Homo sapiens: one gene and its partner. The protein of the gene in region 2 interacts with the protein of the main gene of each other region in a biochemical or structural test. Each region holds a gene or a part of one and is shown on either strand. Other genes may lie near its edges.

Evidence for each region. The genes of interacting proteins can lie anywhere in the genome.
Region 1: the proteins of STAP2 (region 2) and CSF1R form a complex in vitro, tested with the Homo sapiens proteins (one study listed by BioGRID).

The regions. Positions count from the first base shown.
Region 1 is NC_000005.10:150,083,533-150,091,021, forward strand, and holds the start of CSF1R (macrophage colony-stimulating factor 1 receptor isoform a precursor), read right to left. Parts: upstream 3,023-7,489; 5' UTR 2,896-3,022; coding exon 2,847-2,895; intron 1-2,846. UniProt on the Homo sapiens protein: Tyrosine-protein kinase that acts as a cell-surface receptor for CSF1 and IL34 and plays an essential role in the regulation of survival, proliferation and differentiation of hematopoietic precursor cells, especially mononuclear phagocytes, such as macrophages and monocytes.
Region 2 is NC_000019.10:4,328,826-4,335,847, forward strand, and holds part of STAP2 (signal-transducing adaptor protein 2), read right to left. Parts: intron 5,220-7,022; coding exon 5,148-5,219; intron 4,992-5,147; coding exon 4,869-4,991; intron 3,254-4,868; coding exon 3,197-3,253; intron 1,237-3,196; coding exon 1,136-1,236; intron 1-1,135. UniProt on the Homo sapiens protein: Substrate of protein kinase PTK6. May play a regulatory role in the acute-phase response in systemic inflammation and may modulate STAT3 activity.

The sequences.
Region 1 (7,489 bases), on a different chromosome or scaffold from region 2:
CATCATTGGTCTGTTGGGCTGAAAACTTAGGTTTCCAGCCTCCCCATCTCTTCTTTCTCTTGGGACTGGACCCTGGAAAACCATCTGGCCCCCCTCCCACACACCATGCCCCTGTGAAGGGAAAATAAAAACTTGGGACCCTAATTCACTCTGCCAAAAGGAAAAATCAAGCTGGAAACTGAGTCATGCAAGAAGCTGCCTTGCCTTTTATTCCTAAGCAGATAGCGACAGATAAAAGGTAAAATATCCCACAGGCAGCTCCTCTATGTTCACTTTCCCTATGTAAAGAGCCAATTTACTGAACCGAGATAATTGACTGTTCCCCTACCTGCTGCTTTTCTTTTGCAACATGTGGATTACCACAACCTCCCCTTTTCCCCTCCAGCCCACTTTCCCCTTTAAATATTAAAGCCCTCGAATTCATCCAGAATGGCACAGACCACAGAATGTTTTTGTGACTCCATGTTTTTTTCTCGCCAGCATGTCCTTAACCTTGGCAAAATAAACTTCTAAATTGATTGAAGCCAGGCACAGTGGCTCATGCCTGTAATCCCAGCACTTTGGGACGCCAAGGCAGGGGGATCGCTTGAGTTCAGGAGTTCGAGACCAGCATGGCCAGCATGATAAAACCCTGTCTCTACCAAAAATAAAAAAATTAGCTGGGTGTGGTGGCAGGCACCAGTAATCACAGCTACTCAGGAGTGGCAGAATTGCTTGAACCCCGGAGGCGGAGGTTGCAGTGAGCCGAGATCCATGCCATTGCACTCCAGCCTGGGCAACAGAGCAAGACTCGGTCTCAAAAAGATAGAAAAAAGAAAGAAAGAAAGAAAGAAAGAAAGAAAGAAAGAAAGAAAGAAAGAAGGAAGGAAGGAAGGAAGGAAGGAAGGAAGGAAGGAAGGAAGGAAGGAAGGAAGGAAGGAAGGAAGAAAGAAAGGAAGGAGATGGAGTCTTGCTCTGTCGCCTAGGCTGGAGTGCAGTGGCATGATCTCAGCTCACTGCAACCTCTGCCTCCCGGGTTCAAGTGATTCTCCCACCTCAGCCTCCTGAGTAGCTGGAACTACAGGAACCCACCACCACACCCGGCTAATTTTTGTATTTTTTAGTAGAGAGGGGGCTTCACCATATTGGCGAGGCTGGTCTGAAACTCCTGATCTTGTGATCCACCCGCCTCGGCCTCCCAGAGTGCTGGGATTACAGGTGTGAGCCACCATGCCTGGCCACAAGACTCCATCTCAATAAAAAAAATAAAATTAAATTGAGACCTGGCTCAGATACTTTTCCGTTTTTGCCCCACAGGCAGGTTGTGGGTGTAAGGATAGGACAAGGCAGTGAAATCAAACCTGTGGGACTCTCTGAGATGAAGGGGGTGGCGGGTACACTGTGTGTGCATTTGTCAGACCTCATTGAACTTAAGAACCTGTGCTTTCTACTGCATGTAAGTTACATTGCAAAATAAGAAGTCCAGGCCGGGCGCCGTGACTCACACCAGTAATCCCAACACTTTGGGAGGCCAAGGCAGGTGGATCACCTGAGGTCAGGAGTTCGAGACCAGCTTGGCCAACATGGTGAAATCCCATCTCTACTAAAAATACAAAAATTAGCCAGTCATGATGGTGTATGCCTGTAATCCCAGCTTGGGAGGCTGAGACAGGAGAAACACTTGAACCCGGGAGGTGGAGGTTGCAGTGAGCCGAGATTGTGCCACTGTACTCCAGCCTGGTGACAGAGAGAGACTCTGTCTCAGGAAAAAAAAAAAAAAAACCCAAATACTCAAGCTCAGTGTGATTGCCTGGGCCAGAGAAGGATGGTCAGTGGGCCATCTCCTCCTCATCAGGGACCAGAAGCGCCACGGCCTTAGGGTCCTTCTGTGAAGAGGCCAGTATGAGGCTGTCCTTTCTCCCCTTCAATCCCCATCCTCCCCCAAGGTCCCTTTGAATAAGCAGGCAATAGAAATGTGTTTGTTGGGCCAACAAGCCAAGCACAGCAGCCCCTCACCTCTAGTCATGTTCCCTCCCAGATGGAAATTCTGCAGAACTGCTACAGCCTGGGGACCTCCTGAGACTTGGCAGCCTGTGTCTGGGAGGGCTCTGGTCCAGGAGACCCTCACTGGCCTCTTCCCAATCCCTCCTCTAGCCCTATACCTATTTCACCCCGAATTCCCCTCTCCTGAGCCCTGGGCCAGAGAGGCCAACCTCTTGTCTCTCCCCTCTGACCCCTTACACAAGCCACCCAAGGAAGAACCACCACCCCTATCAGGCCCTTCCAAATCAGATCTTGCATAGAATCATCGAATCACAGGCTGGCAGAGCTGCCAGAGCCATCAGGAGCTCTCCAGGTCCTCCCAACTCAGTGTAGGTCTGGACCAGCAGTGCCGGCATCTCACATCTCCCAGGAGTGTGTTGGATATACAGAATCTCAGGTCGCACCTGAGACCGACTGAGTCTGAATCTGCATTGTAACAAAATCCTCAGGTAACTTGTATGCACAGGAAAGTATGAAAAGCACTGCTCTGGTCTAGTCTATCACTGTCCCCCTGCCCCCAACACCTGCAATTGAATAGAAGTGGACACTGAAGCCTCAAGAGTATCAGAGGCTTGCTCAGGACACACAGTGAGTCGCTGGCAGAGCTGGGACAGATCCACAGCACCAGGTGGACCAGTTCCACCACACCCATCTCTTTTCACCCCACTACCTCTCCAAAGCAGATACCCACAAGCCTGCAGTCCAGTGTTGGGGAGACTAAAACAGCCTGAGGACACCCAGTGAGGGGCAAGGACTGAATCCTTTCACAGGGGTCTTCTCCATCACACCCCAACAAAGTCCCCCACCCCCCGTTCTGCTCTTACCATGCCAAGCTGTGGCCACCAGCAGGAGCAGCAGAACTCCTGGGCCCATGGCCTCGGTGGGGAAGTGGCAGGCAGGTGCAGGGCTGCAAGGTGCCCAGGGCACAGAGCTCTCAGCTACTAGCTCCGCAGGGATCGGGACACTGGACACACGTTCCTCTCCTCTGCACTGGCTGTTTGTCTTGTTTTCCTCTTCCTCCTCCTTGGGCTGATCCTCTTCTTCCCCTTTTAGCTAGGCAAGGCAACCACAGAGTTTGGAAATCTTGGGTCTTTAAGAAGAAAACAAAGCCTTGAACCCAAGAGGGAGGGGTCGCAGTCTGGGGCAGGGCCAGCCTGAGCTTGGGGGGAGCTAGCTAAGTTTGGGGCCCTTCTAAAGCCATCTTCAAGGGGTCTTGGGAGAAGAGACATGTCCAAGAGCAGCCAGACCGTTAGTCAGTAGCACAAATGAGGGTCTTCAGAGTGATCAGGTGGCTCTGGCAGATCCCAAAGAGAAGTTAGGTTGCATGATATTGTGACATATATATTTTTTCTTTACCCTGATGTCCTGGCTTACAACTCCTAAAATCCTTGGAATCTCCAAAGTAATGCATATCTTTTAAAAATTTATTATTATTATTTTAGAGACGCAGTTTCACTCTGTTGCCCAGGCTGGAGCTCTGTGGCTCGATCATAGCTCACTGCAGCCTCAAACTCCTGGCTCAAGCCTTCAAGCTGTGAGATCTGACGTTATCTCTAGGTAAATATAGTGTTCAAATTGAATCGGAGGGCACCAGATTCGTGTCTGCTGCAGAATCTGAACAATTGGTTGATTGCTTGGTGTATGGGGAAATATGCCCCATCCTCTACATCTGGGGTCAGAAGTATTTTGTGTTGTGAGACTATAGGAGAAACGGAGTTTGTTTTCTTCCTGTATACAGGTTGGTCTGGGAGAGCCTGATAATATTGGCAATAAGCTTCCTTTTACAGGACATTTACTAGCCAAACCTTTTACATTCACTGTCTCCTTTAGTACTGCAAAACTTTATGTAGGTAAGTACTATTGTCATTCTCATTTCACAGATGGGAAAACTAAAGCTCAGAGAGATCAAATGCCTTAAGCTTGTCCATAGTCAAACAGCTACCAAATGGTGGAGATAGGATTTGGATCCCAGCAGTCTGGTTATAAAACTATCTTTTGTGCGTTACTTACATTGTTTATTTATTTTTACAAAGAATCTAATTGTTCTGCATAATTCTTAAAATATATAGCATTCCTTTGCTCCCTCTTTTCCTGGAGGCAATTGCTTTTACCTCTTTTAGTTGATTCGCTTAGTATTTTACTTCTTATCTCTAAAGAACATGGTCATTTCTTCTTCTTTTTTTCTTTTTTTTTTTCTGAGACAGGGTTTGGTTCTGTCACCCAGGCTGGAGTGCAGTAGTGTGATCTCGGCTCACTGCAACCTCCACCTCCCGGACTCAAGCCATCCTCCTACCTCATCCTCCTGAGTAGTTGGGACTACAGGGGCATGTGCCACCATTCCTAGCAAATTTCTGTATTTTTGGTAGACATGGGGTTTCACCATGTTGTCCAGGCTGGTCTCAAACCCCTGAGCTCAAGTGATTCGCATACCTTGGCTTCCCAAAGTACTGGGATTATAGGTATGAGCCACTATACCCAGCCTAAAGTTCCTTCTTGAAATTGAAAAATCCTGATATAACATTGATCCAGGAAAATGATCATTCCCGTGTACTCAGGTGTGTGTGTGGTGTGTATGTGTGTGTTTGTATGTATATTTATGAGTGTATATATGTACTTTCTTTTTCAGAAAAGTGTTTTGAACCTTTAGCAATCATGAATGTCAATCAAAGCTGACTCAAGAAGAAAAAGAAAATCCAAATAAACCTATAACAAGAAAAGAAATTTAATCAGTAATCAAAAACCTCCCGACAAAGCAAAGCCCAGGACCAGATGGCTTCACTGGTGAATTCTCCCAAACATTTAAAGAAGAATTAATACCAATCCTTTTCAACTCATTCTATGAAGCCAGCATTTTTCTGGTACCAAAGCTAGACCAAGACATTGCCAGAAAAGATAACTACAGACCAATACAAATGCATGAATATAGAAAGCAAAAATTTTCAAAAATGTACTAGCAAACCAAATCTTTTTTTTTTTTTCTTTCTTTCTTTCTTTTTTGAGACAGGGTCTCACTCTGTCACTCAGGCTGGAGTGCAGTGGAGCAATCTCGGCTCACTGCAACCTCTGCCTCCCGCGTTCAAGCTATTCTCGTGCCTCAAACTCCCGAGTAGCTGGGATTACAGGCATGCGCCACCATGCCCAGCTAATTTTTGTATTTTTAGTAGAGACAGGGTTTCACCATGTTGGCCAGGCTAGTCTTGAACTCCTGACCTCAAGCAGTCTGCCCATCTTGGCCTCCCAAAGTGTTGGGATTACAGGCGTGAGCCACTGCACCCAGCCACCAGCAAACCAAATCTAACAGCATATTAAAATGATTATATACCATGATGAAGTGGGATTTGTCCAAGAAATACAACAGTGGTTTAACACATGAAAATCAGGGTAATACATCACATTAATAGAATGAAAAAAATCCTCATATGATCATGTCACTTGATGTAACTGTAAAACCCAACATGCTTTCATTAAAAACAAAACAAAACAAAACCCACCCAACAAACTAGCAATAAAAGGGAACAGCCTCAACGTGATTAAGGGCACATGTGAAAAAGCACAACTAATTCAATGGTAAAAGACTGAGAGCTGGTCCCTTTACATCAGGAACAAGACAAAGATGCCTGTTCTCGCCACTTCTGTTCAACATAGTACTGGAAGTCCTAGCCAGAGCAATCAGGAAGAAAAAGAAACAGAAGGCATCCAAATTAAAAAAGAAGAAGTAAAACTATCTCTGTTCACAGATGACATGATCCTATATATAGATAAATCCTAAAAGATCTACAAAAAGCAACTATTAGAGTTAATATACAAATTCAGCAAACCTGCAGGATACAAGATCAACATACGTAACTCTATAGTACTGATAATACTCCAATAAGGAAATTAAGAAAACAATTTAATTTGCAATAGTATCAAAAATAAAATATTTTGGAATAAACTAAGGAGATGCATGACTTTACAATGAAAACTACAAAACACTGTTGAAAGAAATTTAGAAGACCTTAATAAATGAAAAACCACCTTGTTTTCATAAGTTGGAGGATTTAATAAGACAGCGGTACTCTCAAAGTGAGACTGATTTATAGGGTCAATATAATCCCTATCAAAATCCCAACAGCCTTTTTCTGCAGAAATGGAAAAGCTGATTCTCAAATTCATATGGAATCTCGAGGGACATTGAATATGCAAAACAATCTTGGAGGAGTCACACTTTTCAATTTCAAAACCTACTATAAAACTACAGAAATCAAAATAGTGTGGTATCAGCATAAGAATAACTATATGGATCAATAGAATAAAATTGAGAGTCAGGAAGTAAACTCTCACATTCATGGACAACTGATATTCAACAAGGGTGGCAGGACCATCCAATGGAGAATGACCAGTTTTTTCAACATAGGTGCTAAAAGAACTAGATAGTCACATGCAGAAGAATGAAGTTGAATCCTTATTTTACATCACATATAAAAATTAACTCAAAATGAATTAAAGACCTAAATATAAAAGCTAAAATTATTAAAACCTTAAAAGAAACCATAAAGGTAATATTCATGACCTTGGAATTGGAAATGATTTCTCAGATATGTTTCTAAAAGCACAAGCAACCAAAGAAAAATTGGACATAATAAAAATTAAACATTTTTGTGCATCAAAGGACACTGTCAAGAGAATAAAAACACACAGAATGAATATTTATATCCACAATAAATAAATATATCCAGAATATATACAGAATGAAAGTTGTAGTGTTTCCTCAGCAAAAATCACTCTTGGTGCATAGTTCTATGAGTTTTGACAAATATATATAACAATGTAACCACCACTGTAGTCAAGATATAGAACAGCTCCATCACTCTAGAAAATGTTTCTCATGCTGCTCCTTTATAGTAAAGCCCTCCCCAAACCCCTTACACCAAACAACCACGGATCTGTTCTCCATCCCTGCAGTTTTGCCTTTTCCACAATGTCTTTGTGCTTTACAGGATAATGTCATATAAATGGAATCATACAGTGTGTAGCTAAAGAATGTATGTAGAATCACGCAATATGTAGCTAAAGCCACTCTATTGTCCCTCACAATTAATAAATATTTATGGGAAAATAAATTTTAAAAAAGAATGAAAGTTGTAGTGTTGCCTACAACAACAAAAAAACAATTAAATTTAAAAATAGGCAAATTCAAATATTGCATGTCCTCACTTATAAGTGGAAGCCAAACAAAGGGTCCACACGGATATAAAGATGGAAAGAATAGACTCCAAAAGTGGAAGGATAGAAGGAAAGGGGAAAGGGCAAAAAGGAAGTGAAAAATTACCTATTGGGTACAGTGTTCAGTATTTGGGTACTGGGTACACTGGAAGCCAAATTCACCATTATGCAATGTACCCATGTAATAAACATGCACATCTACTCCCGAGTCTAAAATAATTTTTTTAAAAAACAGGCAAAACATTGAATAGATATTTCTCCA
Region 2 (7,022 bases):
CACCCACTCGGGACCCCGGAGACCAAGTCCGCTCTTCTGCACGTAAACCCTGCCTCCTCTGAGACCCAGCCCCATCCCCATCCCCTAGGCCCAGGAGACCCTGCCCTGCTCTCCAGACCCAGGCCCCTCCCACGGAGACCCAGTCCGGCCTTCCAGGCTCCTAGTTTTTGTGGGGTTTTTTGTTTTTTTTTTGAGACAGGGTTTCGCTCTTGTTGCCCAGGCTGGAGTGCAATGGCGCTATCTCGGCTCACCGCAACCTCCGCCTCCCGGGTTCAAGCGATTCCCCTTCCTCACAGGCCCGGCTAATTTTTGTATTTTTAGTAGAGACGGGATTTCTCCATGTTGGTCAGGCTGGTCTCAAACTCCCTACCTCAGGTGATCCGCCCGCCTCGGCTTCCCAAGGTGCTGGGATTACAGGCGTGAGCCACTGCATCTGGCCGGGTTTTTTGGTTTTTTTTTTCTTTAGAGATGGGGTCTCGCTATGTTGCCCAGGATGGGTCTCGAACTGGGTAAAAGCAATCCTCCCGCCTCGACCTCCCAAAACGCTGAGATGACAGGCGCGAGCCACCGCGGCCAGCCAGGCTCTTAATTCTGGCCCCGGAGATGCAGCTCCAACCCCTAGGGAGACCCAGCCCTGCCTCGTAGGCACCTAGAGCCTCCCCTGGAGATCCTGTCCCGCCCTCCAAACACCTAGACCTTACCCTGGAGGCCCTGCCCGCCTCCCTGATCACCAAGAACCGCCCACAAAGACGATGCTCCGCCCCCCATCCAGGCCCCGCCTCTAGGGTCCCGGTTACCCTCTCCGACAAATAACTCCTCCCCGGAGACGAAGCATCACCTTCTAGACACCTAGACTGACCACCCCCAGACCCTGTCCCTACTCCTCAGGCCTAGGCCCCGCCACTGAAGACCTTACCAGTCCTCTAGGCCCCTAGACCCGCTCCTGGAGATCCTGCCCTGCCTCCCCAGCATGGGCCATAACTCCCCCTCCCCCTCCCCCACCCCCAGCCCCAAGGCAGTCCTCATGCAAAATCCAAGACCCAACTCCAGGGGACCCAACTCACCGCCCACCCTCAGCCACACAACCACCTCCCGTCCCCATCCTGCAGCCCCTCGGGACAGGCGGGACACTCACGAGGGTGTCTCCAGTGCACGGCGCGCCTCCTCTTTGGCCAAGACTTCAGACATCATGTATAGGTGCCCAGGAAGCAGGGTCAAGTCGGTCGGGACACGGAGCTGAGGGGCGATCGAGGGACAGTGACTGCACCTGGCCAGCCGGGAATGGACGGCTGTGCCCAAGTCACAGAGTGGCAAATTGAGGCCAGAGCTCAGAGCAATGAACTCTGACACCTTAGAGGGCAAAGAGGGCTTCGAGAGGGTTGCAGAGGAGTGTTGCATGAGAGTAGATGCTGGGGCCGGGCGCGGTGGCTCACGCCTGTAATCCCAGCACTTTGGGAGGCCGAGGCGGGCGGATCACCTAAGGTCAGGAGTTCGAGACCAACCTGGGCAACATGGCGAAACCCCGTTTGTACTAAAAATACAAAAAATTAGCCGGGCGTGGTGGCAGACACCTGTAATCCCAGCTACTCGGGAGGCTGGGGCAGGAGAATCACTTGAACCTGGGAAGGCGGAGGCTGCAGTAAGCCAAGATCACGCCATTGCACTCCAGCCTGGGTGACAGAGTGAGACTCCGTTCCCCGCTCCCCAACCCCACCAAAAAAAAAAAAAAAAGTAGATGCTGGAATCTAGGGTCTCAAACTAAAGTCTGCAGGGGCCAGGCAGGTCTCAAACTCAATGGCCTGCCAGGGTGAGGTAGGAAACAGGGAAATCAGAGGGAAATCAGGAAGGTAGACTAAAATTCCCGGTTGATAAATGATGTCAGCTAATTTTTTTTTTTTTTTTTTTTTTGAGATGGAGTTTAGTTCTGTCACCAAGCTGGAGTGCAGTGGCGCGATCTTGGCTCACTGCAACCTCCGACTCCCGGGTTCAAGCCATTCTCCTGCCTCAGCCTCCCGAGTAGCTGGAATTACAGGCTCCCGCCACCACGCCCAGCTGATTTTTGTATTTTTAGTAGAGACAGGGTTTCACCGTGTTGGCCAGGATGGTCTTGATCTCCTGACCTCATGATCTGCCAGCCTCGGCCTCCCAAAGTGCTGGGATTACAGGCGTGAGCCACCACGCCTGGCCAATGTCAGCTAATTTTTAAAAACTTAGCACTCTGTGGCCAGGCATGGTGGCTCACATCTATAATCCTATCACTTTGGGAGGCCAAGGAGGGTGGATTGCTTGAGCACGGAAGTTGGAGACCAGCCCGGGCAACATAGTGAGACCCTGCTCTACAAAAAAATTTTTAAATTAGTCAGATGTGGTAGTGTGTGTCTGTATCCCAGCTACTTGGGAGGCTGAGGCAGGAGGACTGCTTGAGCCTGGGAGTTGGAGGCTGCAGTGAGCTATGATCACACCACTGCACTCCAGCCTGGGCAACAGAGAGAGACCTTGTCTCAAAAAAATAAAATAAGAAATACGGTTGGTCGCTGTGGCTCACGCCTGTAATCCCAGCACTTTGAGTGGCCAAGGCGGGCAGATGACTCAAGGTCAGTTCAAGACCAGCCTGGCCAACAGGGTGAAACCCCATGTATACTAAAAATACAAAAATTAGCCAGGCGTGGTGGCGGACGCCTGTAATCCCAGCTACTCGGGAGGCTGAGTCACAAGAATTGCTTGAACCGGGGAGGCAGAGGTTGCAGTGAGCTGAGAACGTGCCATTGCACTCCAGCCTGGGCAACAGAGTGAGACTCTGTCTCAAAAAAATAAAACAAAATTTTGGCCGGGCCCGGTGGCTCACGCCTGTAATCCCAGCACTTTGGGAGGCTGAGGCGGGTGGATCACGAGTTCAGGAGACAGAGACCATCCTGGCTAACACAGTGAAACCCCGTCTCTACTAAAATACAAAAAAATTAGCCGGGCGTGGTGGCGGGCTTCTGTAATCCCAGCTACTCCGGAGGCTGAGGCACGAGAATGGCGTGAACCCGGGAGGCGGAGCTTGCAGTGAGCCGAGATCGCACCACTGCACTCCAGCCTGGGCGACAGAGCGAGACTCCGTCTCAAAAAAAGAAAAAAAGAAAGAAAGAAAAAGGAGGCTTTTTGAGGAGATCTGGAGAATGGGAGAGAGGGCGCAGAGAGCCACTACTCTTACCTCCACCACCGTTAAGATGAAGCCTTTCCACATTTCCCGACACTCCAAGGTCTCTACCTGGGGAACAAAAGAAAGGAAAGAATCCAAGTCAGTGAGCCTCAGTCTACTCATCAATGAAATTGGACTAGGGAAGAGTCCCTGCTTCAAAGGGCCGTTTTCTTTTTTCTTTTTCTTCTTTTTTTTTTTTTTTTTTTTTTTTTTGAGATGGAGTCTCATTCTTCTGTCGCCCAGGCTAGAGTACAGTGGCGCGATCTCAGCTCACTGCAACCTCCACCTCCCAGGTTCAAGCGATTCTCCTGCCTCAGCCTCCTGAGTAGCTGGGACTACAGGCATGCACCACCTCGCCCAGCTTTTTTTTTTTTCTCTTAGACATGAGGGTCTCGCTTTGTTGCCAGGCTGGTCTTGAACTCCTGGGCCCAAGCTATCCTTCTGCCTTGGCGTCCCAAAGTGCTCAGATTACAGGCATGAGCCACCATGCCTGGCTGATATTATGATTTTTGATGTTATTATATCAACATTTGAAAAACATAGATCAGGCTGGATGCAGTGGCTCACTCACGCCTGTAATCCCAGCACTTTGGGAGGTCGAGGCGGGAGGATCACTTGAGCCTAGGGGTTCAAGACCAGACTGGGTAACATAGCGAGCCCCCTGTCTCTACAAAAAAATAAAATATTAGCCAGGCATAGTGGCATGTGCTTGGCTGAGGTAGGAGGATCGATCGCTTGAGCCCGGGAGGTCGAGGCTGCAGTGAGCTATGATCTCACTACTGCACTCCAGCCTGGGCGACGAGCAAGACCCTGTCTCAAAATAAAATAATAAATAAAATAAAATAATAGAAAAACATAGATCAGTTCCCAGACCTCTCATGCTCTAAACCCTCCCATAGGCCAGCCACCGTGACTCATGCCTGTAATCCCAGCACTTTGGGAGGCCGAGGTGGGTGGATCACTTGAGGTCAGGAGTTCGAGACCAGCCTGGCCAACATGGTGAAACCCTGTCTCTACCAAAAATACAAAAATTAGCTGTGCGTGGTGGCACACGCCTGTAATCCCAGCTACTCGGGAGGCTGAGGCAGGAGAATCACTTAAACCTGGGAGGCAGAGGTTGTAGTGAGCCAAGATTGCACTACTGCACTCCAGCCTGGGTGATAAGAGCGAAACTCAAAAAATAAAAATAAAAAATAAACCCTCGGCTGGACACGGTGGCTCACGCCTATAATTCCAGCAGTTTGGGAAGCCGAGGTGGGTGGATCACCTGAGGTGAGGAGTTCCAGGCCAGCATGGCCAACATGGTGAAACCCCATCTCTACTAAAGATTCAAAAAATTAGCCAGGAGTGGTTGCGTGCGCCTGTAATCCCAGCTACTTGGGAGGCTGAGGCAGGAGAATCACTTGAACCTGGGAGGTGGAGGTTGCAGTGAGCCAAGATCGTGCCATTGCACTCCAGCCTGGGTGACAGGGCGAGACTTGGTCTCAAAAAAAAAGTAATAAAATAAAATAAAATAAACCCTCCCATAGCACCCAGCTCCTTTGGGGTCAAGACCCAAGTCTTACCCAGGGCCCACAGGGCCCTGTACTACCTGCCCCTTCGTGGTTGGCACAATGGAGGGTAGGAGCATTTGAGCATCTTCTGCAAGCACCGCCCCTCTGCACCCCTCCAGCAAGGGACCTACCTTGAACTTGATCTCCTGATCCCGGAGAATCAGGCTGAAGTGGGTGCCAGGGTCACGTGAGCTTCCCCAGGGAATCTCATCTGTGAGTTTCTCAAATGCTCCCAAGTTGAGCTTCTCCACGTGCTGGGGGCATAGAAGCAGGGGATCTGGGCACCAGTTCCTTGGCCTCCAGGCCCCCTGGATGATGTAGCAGCCACCTTGACCACACCATCTACATTGTCTGCTTGGTCTCTGGGCTCAAGGGAAGGCCTGCTCTGGAGCCTCCATTCCCATCCTTACCTGGAAGTCCCGATTGCTATTGTAGAAATAAATGGTGAGACCCTGCAGGCCTGCCCAGAACTTCTTGTAATCCTAGGGACCAGAAGTGCAGAAAGAAGAGGTGAGCTGGCCAAGCTGAGTGCCTTTCATGTACTCAATCCTGTCTCGGGGCCTTTGCACTGGTTGTGCTCTCTGCCCCACGCTGCCCCCAGATCTTTATTACCTCCTGCCTTGAGTTTCTGATCAAATGTACCTTCTCAGGGAGATCCTCCCCACCCATGGCCCAGCTTCTGGGTGTCTGTTTTCGTCTGAGAAAGGACCAGACGGAACCTCGATGTGATGAGGGATTCAGAGCAACCCCCGCCAATCTATAGAGATGGGTGCTCTAGGGGTAAGTTAACTAACTGGTTTAATGGTATCCCATTCATCTTTCATCATCCAGCTACCCACTAGCCATCTATCTATCATCCATCTGTCCATCCGCCCACCCACCCATTCATCCATCCACCTACCATTGACCCATCCATTCACCCATTCATCCATCCATCCATCTGCCCACCATCCATCCACCAATCCGTCCACCCACCCACCCATCCACACATCCATCCATCCAGTTATTCATCCACCCACCCACCCATTCATCCATCCACCTACCATTTACCCATCCATTCATCCATTCATCTATCCATCCACCCACTCATCCATCCGTCCATCACCCCCATCCATCCATCTATCCATCATGGAGCCATTCATCATCCATCCATCCAGTCATTCATCAATACCTACATCACCCACCATCCATCCAGTCATCCATCCACCCACACATCCATCTGTCCACCCATCCATCCATCCCTCCATCATCCATCCACTCATCCATCCACCCACTCATCCATCCATCCACTCATCTATCAATGCATCCCTCCATCCATCCACCTACTCATCCATCCATCCACCCATCCATCCATCCCTCCATAATCCATCCATCCATCCACTCACCGTCCATCATCCATCCACCCACTCATCCATCCACCCACTCATCCATCCACCCACTCATCAATCCATCCACCCATCCATCCACCTATCCATCCATCCCTCCATCATCCACCCACCATCTATCATCCATCCACCCACTCATCCATCCACCCACTCATCCATCCATCCATCCATACATCCATCCACTCATCTATCAATGCATCCCTCCATCATCCATCCACCTACTCATCCATCCATCCCTCATCCATCCATCATCCATCCATCCACTCATCCCTCCATCATCCATCCACCTACTCATCCATCCATCATCCATCCATGCATTCATCCATTCACCATCCACCCACCCACGCATCTTCCCGTTCATCCATCCATACATCCCTCCATCGTGCATCCACCTATTCATCCATCTATCATTCATCCATGCACTTGTTCATCCATCCATCATCCACCCACCCACCCGTCTGCCCACTCATCCATCCATCCACTCCCCCATCCATCCATCCACCCACTTGTATATGCACTCATCCATCCACCCACACATCCTCTCAGCCACCATCAAGCCCGCATGTATTCACCAAGCCTCCACTCATCCCCCCATCTACCCATCCACCTGTCCATCCGTAGACACAAGCACAGATACACACATGCATTTACCTAACATTTACTGAAGGCTTTTTATGTGCCAGCCCTGCTCCAGGCACTGGGACTAGAGCAATACAGGATTAAACACTGTATTGCTTCATTATGTACCCACGATGTGCTGTTGGGCAAGTTATTTGAGCTGTCTTTGTCTGTTTCCCCAGCTGTAAAATGGTGATAATAATGGTGCCAACTCTGGAGGATCTCATGAGAATTAGGTGACTTTCCACATGGGAAGCACCAGGGCCTGCGTTGAGTCAAGTC